Homo sapiens: one gene and its partner. The protein of the gene in region 1 interacts with the protein of each later gene in a biochemical or structural test. Each region holds a gene or a part of one and is shown in the gene's direction. Other genes may lie near its edges.

The links. The genes of interacting proteins can lie anywhere in the genome.
Region 2: the proteins of HBS1L (region 1) and EXOSC7 form a complex in vitro, tested with the Homo sapiens proteins (one study listed by BioGRID).

The regions. Positions count from the first base shown.
Region 1 is NC_000006.12:134,960,806-134,967,838, reverse strand, and holds part of HBS1L (HBS1-like protein), read left to right. Parts: intron 1-1,365; coding exon 1,366-1,510; exon of another isoform or gene 1,511-1,513; intron 1,514-2,548; coding exon 2,549-2,560; 3' UTR 2,561-7,033. UniProt on the Homo sapiens protein: GTPase component of the Pelota-HBS1L complex, a complex that recognizes stalled ribosomes and triggers the No-Go Decay (NGD) pathway.
Region 2 is NC_000003.12:45,007,244-45,012,004, forward strand, and holds the end of EXOSC7 (exosome complex component RRP42), read left to right. Parts: intron 1-176; coding exon 177-332; intron 333-3,991; coding exon 3,992-4,096; 3' UTR 4,097-4,228; downstream 4,229-4,761. UniProt on the Homo sapiens protein: Non-catalytic component of the RNA exosome complex which has 3'->5' exoribonuclease activity and participates in a multitude of cellular RNA processing and degradation events.

The DNA.
Region 1 (7,033 bases):
CACATAATGTATATTCTTAGCAATCCTGTGAAGCATCTAGCAAGTGACACAAAGCTCAAGTGGTAGAGGCAGGATTCTAACCTAGTCAGTTGGTTTACATAAATTATATTCTTTTGTTCAGGAGCCAGGTTGTTTGACCTAGACAACTGATACAGAATTTTCAGTCTGAAATTGGCTCATCATATATAATCCTGAGTCTTCCCCTCCATGCTCCTGCTACAAAATCCTAGCTCAATGATGGTAGAGTTTAACATATTCTCGTGTTTGTGTTCCCTGTCATCTTATTTGTAGCTTTATCCTTTTATTTTGCACAACCGTTTGGCCTTTCCCTTTCATTCCTGTTCAGGCACGTTGTAGGCTCTTGATTGCTTTATGCAGAATGGAATTTAATGTTCTAGAAACTAAATTAGGAACAAGCCATTTATGTATTAGATGCTCTCCTTCCTAAGGAATGAACTTAAGCCTGAAATTGTCCAAAACCAATATTTGGAATTTTTGGTGTATTTTTTTAGAACCTTCTTTTAGTCGTCTGCCCCTGAACTTATCTTTCAAAAGGAGAGTTTATGATTTCTGTCCACTATACTTCTAGAGTACATAAAAATTAAATTAGAAAACAATTCCAAAATGTCCCTTTTTAGGTTCTGCCTCTCTCACTAAGTCTGAGCAGGGCCTAGCCTAGAGATTTTTGTTCACTTATTTTTATGAAATCATTTACAGTCTGGTCCATGCCCTGTCTTCCTTCATATTTTACAAGTATCATATTGTGGAAAAGCTACTTATGTGATTTTTGTCCTGAACTCCTGCTAAGGAACTATTATTCCTGTGTGGGGAAAGAGAGAGATTGCTTGATTGATTGAGGGGAATCTTAGCAACAACAGATTGATTGTCCTCTTCACAGATAACTTCCTAATACACATTCCATAAATTACAGTTTTACTAGGAAAGACATAGGGCATTATATTCCTCTTTGCAAATACTTTTTTATAGAAATAAGCCTTAGTATAACTTTCTTTATTAGATAATTGAACTCACTTTCTTGAGGGAATGAAAGAAAAAGCATTTATTTCATGATGAGGGGCCTTAAGCATTTTAGGCTATAGTGGTCCCGTAAGGGATAGAGTTATATTTGGAAGATTGGTAAAAATGAACTACCTAATGTTTCTTAAATCTAGAATTACTCCTCATTTCTTTCAACTAAAGCAGAAAGTCCAAAGACATATATTTTCATTCAAAAAATATTTTTCTTGTTTTTGAAAGACTCAGTTGATATGTTGGTTAAATGTGAAATATTTGTTTTTCAAGTTGTTATTATTACATTTATTCACCTCTATCATATATTCATTTGTTCTTTTTTTTTCTTAATAGGTTTTTGACTAAAGGCCAGAATGCATTGGTAGAGCTACAGACACAAAGACCAATAGCTCTTGAGCTATATAAAGACTTTAAAGAGCTGGGGAGGTTCATGCTACGTTACGGTGGTTCTACAATAGCTGCTGGTGTTGTCACTGAGGTATTTTATTTTAAAGTGACTCATTATATATCCATAGTTATGATGCCTTTTCTTTTTTACCTTTTAGGAATGAAAAGAAAGCATTGAGGGAATGAAAGAAAAAGCATTGATTAGGAGAAGCCTTACTCATTTTAGGTTGTAGTGGTCCTTTAAGGGATAGGGTTATATTTGGAAGATTGGTAAAATCTTCAGTGAGATTTTATGCCTTAAAGGAAACACAGTTATGCTACTAGAACAAGAAATTAGAATTTATATTAAATTCTAATTGCTGGAGAAAACAGCCAGAAATGAACCAGAAAATTTCAATGATTTAATTTCTTCTACACTATCATAATTAATATGAATCTTATGAATATTGTATTTTAAAGGGTACTTCATTACTCCACATGATTGTTTTCTGCCTAAAACTAGTTTATTTAATTGGATATAACATAAACTTTAAGTTGCATCAAAAGTGAGTTACACATATCATGAAAAATCTTTCTTTTAAGTTGCTAAAGCACCAAGAAACTCTATATACATAATTTAAGTAAAATACATATGGAAGGCGGTGTGGGGTGGAGGTGAAGAAAACAGCTTTCAGAGTTACACTGCCCATTTGTGTTCTTGCTCCACCAGTTTTTAGCGGCATAAATGCATTTCTCCTTCAATTTACCTCCTTCAGTGTAAAAATAGGATAATAGAATCTACCTCCTAGAGTTGTGTTGAAATGAAATGATAACGTGCAAAGCACTCAGCACATAAAAAGCATCCAATATTGGTAGCTGATATCGTTGCCATCAATATCACATTTAATCTATCAAGGCATTCTTTCTAAAAGAGCATTCTAAAAATAAGATAGAGTCATTTGTGGAGAATAATGGAGAGATTATAGTAAATTGCAGAAATGGCATGACTAGGAAAGGAAGAAAGTTGCAGGACAAAGAAAAAGATTTTCTCTTGATATAATAATTCTTTCACCATAATTTTCCCTTTGTTGTTCTTATAATGTGATTGATTAAATTACAGCAAATGTCTTTTTTTTTTTTGTTTTAACAGATAAAAGAATGATGGGTCAGAATTTCTACCACGTTTCTGGATACAGTGAAATAGCTAACCTCTGTTTCAAGAATGCAGTTATTAAGTCAAAGGAACAATGTGCAATTGATATGTTTTTAGATGAGAGAGAAAAATTAAAGCTAAAATTAGCTGCAAAGAAGTATTAATAATCACCTCTGCAAAAATTCTAAGTTGCCAACTGGCAAAGAAAGTCTAATGTTAAAAACAACTTTGCCTTTGAAACGTTAATAAATGGATTTACTTTGCTAAGATTTATGGCAAGTGTCAAAAATAGTATCTGAAGATACTGAATCATCATGAAATGAACTCTACTTCTGGCCAAAGCACAATGTATTTGCAGTTTTCTCTTTTGATTCAATTATACTGCACATGTTTTAAGGAAAAGTAACTTAATTGGGTTTTTCAGGCAGTTGATATTTGACCTAAGCTTTTTTTTTTTTTTTTTTTCCAGTTAATGCTAAGAAAAGATTTGGGGAAGGTTATAATAAAAGTATTTTGTGGTGACCATAAGAATGTCCCTCCCCAAACAAGTAAACTTGTGAAAGTTTAATTTGGAATTAGTGGAAGCTGTTCCTTTGAAAGCCAAGATATTATTTAAGTTGTAAAGCCAGCTAATAAAATGCCTTAGTTTGAGCATAATACAAACTGTGTTTTGTTCTTTAGACATTTATGAGATTCTCTGCCACTAACAGTAAATATGATTTAGGGGTTTTGTGGGATCTTTTTCACCTAAGAGTTTCCTAGCTCTGTCACATGAATTCTTTTTTATCCTAATGGCAGATCCAATTTCATCTCATTCATTTTTTTAACCATAACTTGCTTTTCCCATTCTCACTTTTAGAATTATACCTATGATGGCCCTTTCTTTATCTTGCTTACCTTATAGATTATAAGTCCCCTGTGAGTAAGTAAGAGTCATGTTTTTCTTTAAAGTTTCAACAACAAACCCCAAGGTTTATTTATTTAACAACAGGTATTCGTTGAGGTGCCTTCTGGGTGCAAGGAGCTTTAGAGTAGATTTTGACCTCAGCTGAACCTGGAACTCTGATCTGATAGACTGTTTATGATAAGCTTTTTTTTTTATTAGCAGCGTGATTTGTATATCGATGGCTTAACATATACAACAGCATTTCTTCTCCCTGCACCTTTTCGTGAACCTGACATTTTGAACATAAGCAATAACATCTGTATGGTAAAGTAGGCAGATTATACATGTGTTGCTTAGTGAATGATTACCAAGTGAACACACTTGGTATATTGCTTTACCAAAATACATGTGTAGTTGTCACTTCAGATTCACTGAGTTAAGAAAGTTTTATTTAAATATTAATATTAATCAAGAATTTAACAGATATATGTGACAGAAATCTAACTTCAAGTGACTGAAGCAGAAAGAAAAATTTTTGAATGACATAACTGAGAAAATTAGAGGTAGCTCTAGCTTTGATTCCATTTAGATCGAGCAGCTCACACAATGTTAGCAAGGACTCATCTCCACTCTGCCTTCCCTGGTGCTGGTTTTGCTCTCAAACTCTATATAGAACTCTCGGCCGGGCGCGGTGGCTCACACCTGTAATCAAAACACTTTGGGAGGCTGAGTCGGGAGGATAGCGTGAGCCCAGGAGTTTGAGACCAGCTAAGGCAATATAGTGAGACCATGTCTCTACAGAAAAAATTTAAAAACAGATCAGCTGGGTGTGGTGCCACATGCCTGTAGTCCCAGCTTCTCAGGAGGCTGGGGTGGGAAGATCACTTGAGCCCAGGAGGTCGAGGCTGCAGTGAGCCATGATCACATCACTGCAGTCCAGCCTGGGTGACAGAGCAAGACCTGTCACCCTGCCACCCATAAAAAACCTCTTCTGTAATGCCAGGTTCTTGACAAGATGTGATAATTCCACACTTACATCCTCAGATCTCCCATCCAGGGCAAGGACAGACTAAAAGAGCATATCTTCTCCAGAAGTCCTAGAAACATCTCATCATTGACTATGATTGAATTTTATTTATTAATACTTCCCTAGGATATCCTGTGTTTGAGTGTGAAGTTAATATCACACAAAGCATGTAGCTAACAGTTGTGTGAGGGTTGGAAATTCAGGGTGCTGTTAGGAAGGGGAAATGGATTGGGGTTTAAGGTAGGGGGAGTAAAAACAAGAAACCATCCACTCTGTATATTATATAAGACTGTGATCGAATTAAGAATTTTAGTTTACAGTTTAGCATAAACAAATAGTAGTAGAAATGAATGCATTTATTCATTCCTTCCTTCTCCAATAGTGTTTAAGTACAATCTTTTTATTTGCATTTTATTGATGATTGATTGTGGTTGAAAGGAGTGGTGATATTATTTCGAGGATCCACTGTGTAAGAAGACTGTTGGCAGTGGAAGGCTCGAGTTGATTAAGTGACAAAGAGGTAAAGCAGACATGCCCAAGCTTGGTTATGCTCTGATTTCCTACCCTGTTACTTTCATCCATAATTTATAGTACATCCATTTTGTGTCATTTTGCTTCAGGTATTTCTTGTCCTGACTGTCTTCTTTTTTATGATTTTACTGTTTCTTCACACTAATGGCTTTGTCCTCTGACTTTGACTCTTTGTGAGATTCTTCTGAGCAGTTAACCTCTAGGATAATGTGGCTTGAACACATTACAGAACTATGTTTTGACTTGTTAGTATTATTCACACATTCATGACAATTGAGCCTCTCTACTGTGAGAAATGTTTTAGAGGCCAGTTTCTAGGCATAGCTGTTTTTCTCCCATGAGTATGCAAATCAATAGTTTTAACCATTGTTAAAATGCAATCATAGTGACTTCAGAAAATTTGGAAAATACAGAAAATATAGGGAAGAATAAAATTAACCCACAGTTCTGTCACCTAAAGGTAACTGCTGCCAATGTTTTCATGTATTTCTTTTCTGTCTCTCCAATGCATTTTTTTACATAGTTGTGAGCGTTAGCCAAGTTATTTTCATGTTGTTATGTAATCAATATTTTTCAATAGAAGTATTAGAGGTTTTTTTTATTGATATAAAAATAACAATTACAGATCCTGATATATAGAAGTTATTCAAAATTATACAGTTTTCAAAAAATCAAGACAAGTAGGCCCAATACAAACTACTGAATCATCTTCTAATTTCCCTCTAAAATATTTATAGAAATATGTAAGTAGAAAAACATTCATCCTTTCCTCGTCTAATTATGATCCTGCCATATTCCAGGCACAAGAGAAAGCTCTGGGGCTTGAGTCTTAATAGGGCTGATAGTCCAACCAGGGGACAGGGTATCATAAAGAGATAATTCAAAACTTTAAGATTGGAGGGTAGGTGATGGTAGAAAATTCTGCGGCAAACATTTGTTGATGCTCATCATTTGTTGATGTCATCAAAGATCACCAGGGCATAATTATAATCAAAATTAGTTTTATTGATGCTTGCTGCAGCAAGAGAGACTGCACACCACTGGGGTCTATGGGTGCTTCTCAGTGGGAAGGTGTAAGGAGGGGCTTGCTAAGAATTTGAGCACATGTAGCTAATTTTAAGGAGGGCTCAAGTGAGCAAGGGTTTCTTCTGGATTGAGTGCTGTCAGAAAGTGGATTGAGTGCTGTCAGAAAGTGGGAGTGATTTTGCAACTGGGTATCTTAATTTTTATGTTGTGGGTGGGAGGAAAGGAAAGAAGCAACAGTCACCCATGTTAGCCACAAGAAGAGGTTGGCTGTTTATGGTTTGCACAGTGACTTTGTTTTTATCTGTGCTCAGGCATGATTACAGTATCTCATTTTATCCGGATTACAGTGACCTCATCTGATGTTAGAGATTTGAGAATTGTTAAATGTTCAGCAGGAGAACGCCACCGCCTAGTGTGAATGCTAGGTCAGAAGCTGCTTTTTCACACTGAAACCATTTAAGTATGTACAAATAAGTTAATAGTGTAAATGTAGGTGTAAAATACAATGCAAAACAAAATAATGAAGTAAGTGAATTAAATTATTGCACCAAATATGGGGATATGAAATAGGGAAAGAAAAGCATTAAGTTACTTATAGTCCATAAAGGGACTACATTATTTTGTTACTCTGATAATCCCATAAAACAAAGTTTTAAGAATGTTTACAGTAACCATGAATGGAATTAGTGAAACTATTCATATCAATGCAAAAAAAAAAAAAAAAAAAGCAAAGAAACTAAGTCTGTACAGCAAAAGATGGAAAGGAAACAAGAAAATTAAATGAAGACAAAGGTTGTGATTATTACAGTAAATGAAAATAGGTTTTTATCTTTAAAATGTAGACTCAAACTGCAAAGCTAATGATATGCTATCTGCAAAATATTCCTATTTTGTAAATAAATAAAACCATAGATTTAAAGAAGAAAGGGCACAGATGTACTGGGGAGACAAAAATAACTGATCCGTTGGGTGTATACCATGTGCCAAGCAATTTTCATATACTCATTTAACA
Region 2 (4,761 bases), on another chromosome or scaffold:
GAGAATTGTTGAACAATCCCTCAGCTGTTTTCCTCGTGAGCAGAATCTAAAATAAGACCTGGAATGACCAGTGCAAATACTTTTGCCTGGTGTAGAGATTCCCACCACGAGGCCATCAGGGGTGGGACTCTGGGGCCTGCGTGACCCACCGTGTGCCACGCACCCTGCCTTTGCAGATTGGCTATCGGCATGTGGTGGATGCTACTCTTCAGGAGGAGGCCTGCTCGCTGGCCAGCTTGCTGGTGTCGGTGACCAGCAAGGGAGTTGTGACGTGCATGAGGAAAGTGGGGAAGGGCAGCCTGGACCCAGAGAGCATCTTCGAGATGATGGAGGTGAGGCCTTAGTTCTGAGGAAGGTGCAGGGACCTGGCCGGGGTGCCTGCTGCTTCCTGCTCCCTTGGTCATACCGTGGGGATTCTCCCCATTCACAGCCTTGACCCCAAACTTGGAGATTTGGGAACAGCTGGTTTGAGCCAGGGGTCTGCTGACCTAATCAAGGGGGGTTGTGGGGGTGGATACTCTGGACTGGGAGGTAAGGAGCCTACCAGTAACCATTAATTGTCCTCAGTAAGTACCCCCCATCTCATTTCTATGTGTCTAAATAAGACTGTTGGACTTTCATAATGTAAAGAGCCACTCGTAACTCCAAAAGTGCAGGCCTTTGTGACTTGATGAGGGAATAGAATTCTTGGCTCACTGCTTCCTGTCCCTAGAAGTGGGTGAGTAAAGGTGGAAGCACGGGCTGAACTGTGGCTGTCTCCCAAATTCGTTACAGCTCTAGAAGTGTTTAAATGGAGACAAGCAGGGATGGTAAGAAATCTGACCCACTGGAGTTGGGTTGGGTTGCCCTCATCCCTAGCAGAGCCATCAAGGCGCTTCTACAGTTCTCTGTACTGTTTGCCCCACATGTCTGTCACCTCACTGGCCTGGAAGCCCCGCAGGGCAGGGACAGGGTCCTGCTCACCTGTTTCCCAGACCTTCTTTCCCCTATATCCACCTCACCTTTCTGACTGATTGACTGACTGAACTTCCAGGAACAGAGTTAGCAGGATCTGATTATTCATACTTTCTTGCAACCTCTATATCACCACACATGCCCAGAGATCATTGCTTAATAGCAAGCACTCTTCTTTTGTGTTTAGAAACAATGACTTCATACTGAAGAATCCAAGAACATGACATCTACTTTCTCTCTTTATCATGTTATTTAAAAGGCCAAAATGAGCACTGTATATAGCATGGAGTTCCCAACCATGGGCTGTGAGGGTGTACTGCCCTGGCTGCAAACCTGGCTCTGGGCCATAGTCCCCCTCATCTGCAAAGTGGGACTGATAATAGTAATATCTGCCCAGACACTGCTGAGGTTGTTATTAGGATGATGTGAGGTGTAGAGGAGAAGCACATGTCACAGTGCCTGATATGTCATCAGTTCTCAGCTAATGGCAGCTCTTATTCTCTGTGCTCCATGAAGCACCCTGAGTTCAAATTTCTCCAGACTTAATGCTGCATAAATTCTACCAAAGTCCTCTAGGCAAGGGACTGTCAAACCTTGTTTTAGAAGGTACTCTTCCCCCTCCCAGGAGAGTTTATGAGAATTTCTTTAAACAGCAACAACAAGCACAGTAAACAAATAGCTGGAGTTTATTGTGTGCGTACTATGTGCCAGATACTGTTTTCACTGCTTTAAATATATCATTTAGTCCTCAACAACCTGTGAGGTAACTATTATTATTGTCCTCATTTTTACAGATGAGGAAACTGAGGCACACAGAGGATAAGCAGCTTGCCTACAGGCCTCCCTGCTCATAAATACTGGAGCTAGGATTTAAGCCAAGACTGTGTGCGTCCAGAGCCCCTGCTCCCAGCCACTGTGCAATGTCAGCCTTATAAACCAGATCTGCCCTGGCTGTCATAGATGGCAGAACCAGAGCTCTGTTCAGTGAGCTGAGCTTTGTCCTCCCCTCAGGTTTGGGGAGTGAGGTCTGCTAACTCTGGACAGGGGACTATAGCTCTGTGGCCCTGTCTTACTGTTTATCTCACACAGGGATGCAGCAATCTGGAAAATGACTTGGTGGAGCTGAGAGCCTTGGGGGTAGTTGTGCAGGCTGCCACCCCTAGCCTCTGCAGTTGCTTTCCTGCATCTGGATTCAGAGGCGTCAAGGCCCTCTCAAGTCCTGGCATCCTGTCCATCTCATCTCCTCTTGTTGTCCTCTCTCCCCACCCTCATGTATATGAATAATCAGTACCCCTGTTTGACAGATTCAGACTTTTTTTTCTTTTTCTAATGTTATGGGAAAATCTTTCCAAAGGCCCTTTTTTTTTTTGAGATGGAGTCTCACACTATCGCCCAGGCTGGAGTGCAGTGGTGCGATCTCAGCTCACTGCAACCTCCGCCTCCCTGGTTCAAGTGATTCTGCCTCAGCTTCCCGAGTAGCTGGGATTGCAGGTGCCCGCCACCACTCCCAGTTAATTTTTTTGTATTTTTAGTAGAGACGGGGTTTCAGTATGTTTGCCAGGCTGGTCTTGAACTCCTGACCTTGTGATCTGCCTGCCTCAGCCTCCCAAAGTGTTGAGATTACAGGCATCAGCCACCACATCCAGCCCCCGAAGGCCTTTTTGACCTTTAACCCTGACTTTGCATTTCATAGAGGTGATCACTTCCCAGCCTTTTAGATCGAAATCATCTTTTCATAAGAGTTTTAGTCATACTTGGGATCTCATCCCATGTTACAGTTAGGGGCCAGGGGAGAAGACACACAAGTCATTACTCTGGGGAGGATACACCTGTAACTGAAGAGATTGAGGCAGGGATTTAGGCATGGATGTTTTTATCTCAACATTGTTGAGAATGGAACCAGTGGCAGAGTTGAATCCACACTGCTATGGGAATGTGAAAGACCTGATAAGGTAGAGATTTGTGGTTGGTTCTTTGTATTCTTAAAATGATTCTTGGGCCCAGAGACAGAATAACAGTTTCATAAAGAAAAATATATTTTTTTATATTGGGGTGGTGGTTGTTTTTTGAGACAGGGTCTTGCTCTGTTATCCAGGCTGGAGTACAGTGGCACAGTCACAGCTCACTGCAGCCGTGAACTCCTGGGCTCAAACAATCCTCCCATCTCAGCCCCCTGAGTAGCTGGGTCTACAGGCGCATACCACCATGCACAGCTAATTTTTAGTTTTTTGTAGAGATGGGGTTTCACTCTGTTGCCCAGTCTGGTCTTGATCTCCTGGCCTCAAGCAAAATCCTCTTGCCTTGGCCTCCAAAAGTGCTGGGATTACAAGCATGAGCCACTACTCCCAGCCATATTGAGTTTTTTTGTTTTGTTTTGTTTTTGTTTTTGTTTTTTTTACCTCTCGTGTCTGCTCTGTAGGGACTGATTATTAATTTTGTGGGTTGTCCCTCTTGATGTGTTTCGATTCTAACATTTCACTGCCTTTAGCATCTCAGCATGGCAGTAAACACCAAAGATCCCATCCAGGTACTGACTTTGGTCACACCTGAGCAGTTCTGCTTAGAGGCTTCATGGGAGGTGAATGAGAAGCTGCTTACTAAAATGTCCTTGGCATCATCTGTTTCTTCTCCAGACAGACTCTGGATTCCCTGTGGTCTCCCTATAGTACAGTGTCACCTGGCTGTACCCAAGCCCAGATTTGATTGACAACTTTGTTGCTTGTTGCAGTGGCAGCAGGATAGTGAAGCATGAGCTAATGGCCAGGGCAGGCTTTGCTGCTCTCTGTTTGTTGCCTGGTGGGGGCTGGTGTTTGTCTCTCTTTTTTATTTTTTTGATATGACGATTTTTACAAAATTTATTATGTTGTTGGGGTCTGTGGTTTTTGTTTTAATTTGCTTTAATTAAATAAAAGTCCTCTAAGGCAGATGGAATGTGTACAATGTCAGAAAGACTAGCTGGCAGAAAGGAATGCTTTTCTGGTCAGAGTGTGTGTGCCTTACAAGGGGGTGTGTGCTCTCTCCCGTCCCTTCTCCACAGACTGGCAAGCGTGTGGGCAAGGTACTGCATGCCTCCTTGCAGAGTGTTGTGCACAAGGAAGAAAGCCTGGGGCCCAAGAGACAGAAAGTTGGATTCCTGGGATGATTTGCACATCAACTGCTCAACTGTGGATTGTTTTTTACTTTTCCTTTTAAACCGGTTCGTATATATTTTTCTTCGCTGTTACGAATTTACAGCAGCATTTGTACATGTAAAATTAAAGGCTATTTTCTGGTCTGGTTTGGTATGTCTAGAGTTCTTCAGTTGAAGCCAAGGCACCATTCAGTGACCCATCTGGGTCTGGCCCTTATCTAGTGAGTGGCAGACAAATCCAGAGCTCTGCCACCAAGGGAGACCCCCACAAGCTGGAGTAAAGACCTGACAGAAACTGGTTTACAGGAAATGCTTATGATATGTATTTTGTGAATTTTTTTCCCCTTGAAGAACTTTAAAAATAAGAATCACAAAGAAAAGTTCATTCACCTTGTGTATTTGGGTGGTTCTGGGAGAGGAAAAAAGAGGAGGCACTCTGCTGCAGGTACACACCCAGGGCGTCTGTCTGTCTGGTTAGCCATCCCAAATCCTGGGAAAGTCCAGCTCTGACTTCCTGCCCTCCAAGAGATCCGAATGGAATTCCCTAGGTTCAGGGGCTTTAGTGGCAGCCACTTTGGCCCTTAGCCATCCTTTCTTATCACTCTTGTTTTGAAATTGCTTTGTGTTTTATAACCACTCCCTGGTGTTTCCTAAGATTTTGTTTTGTCAGCATTAAG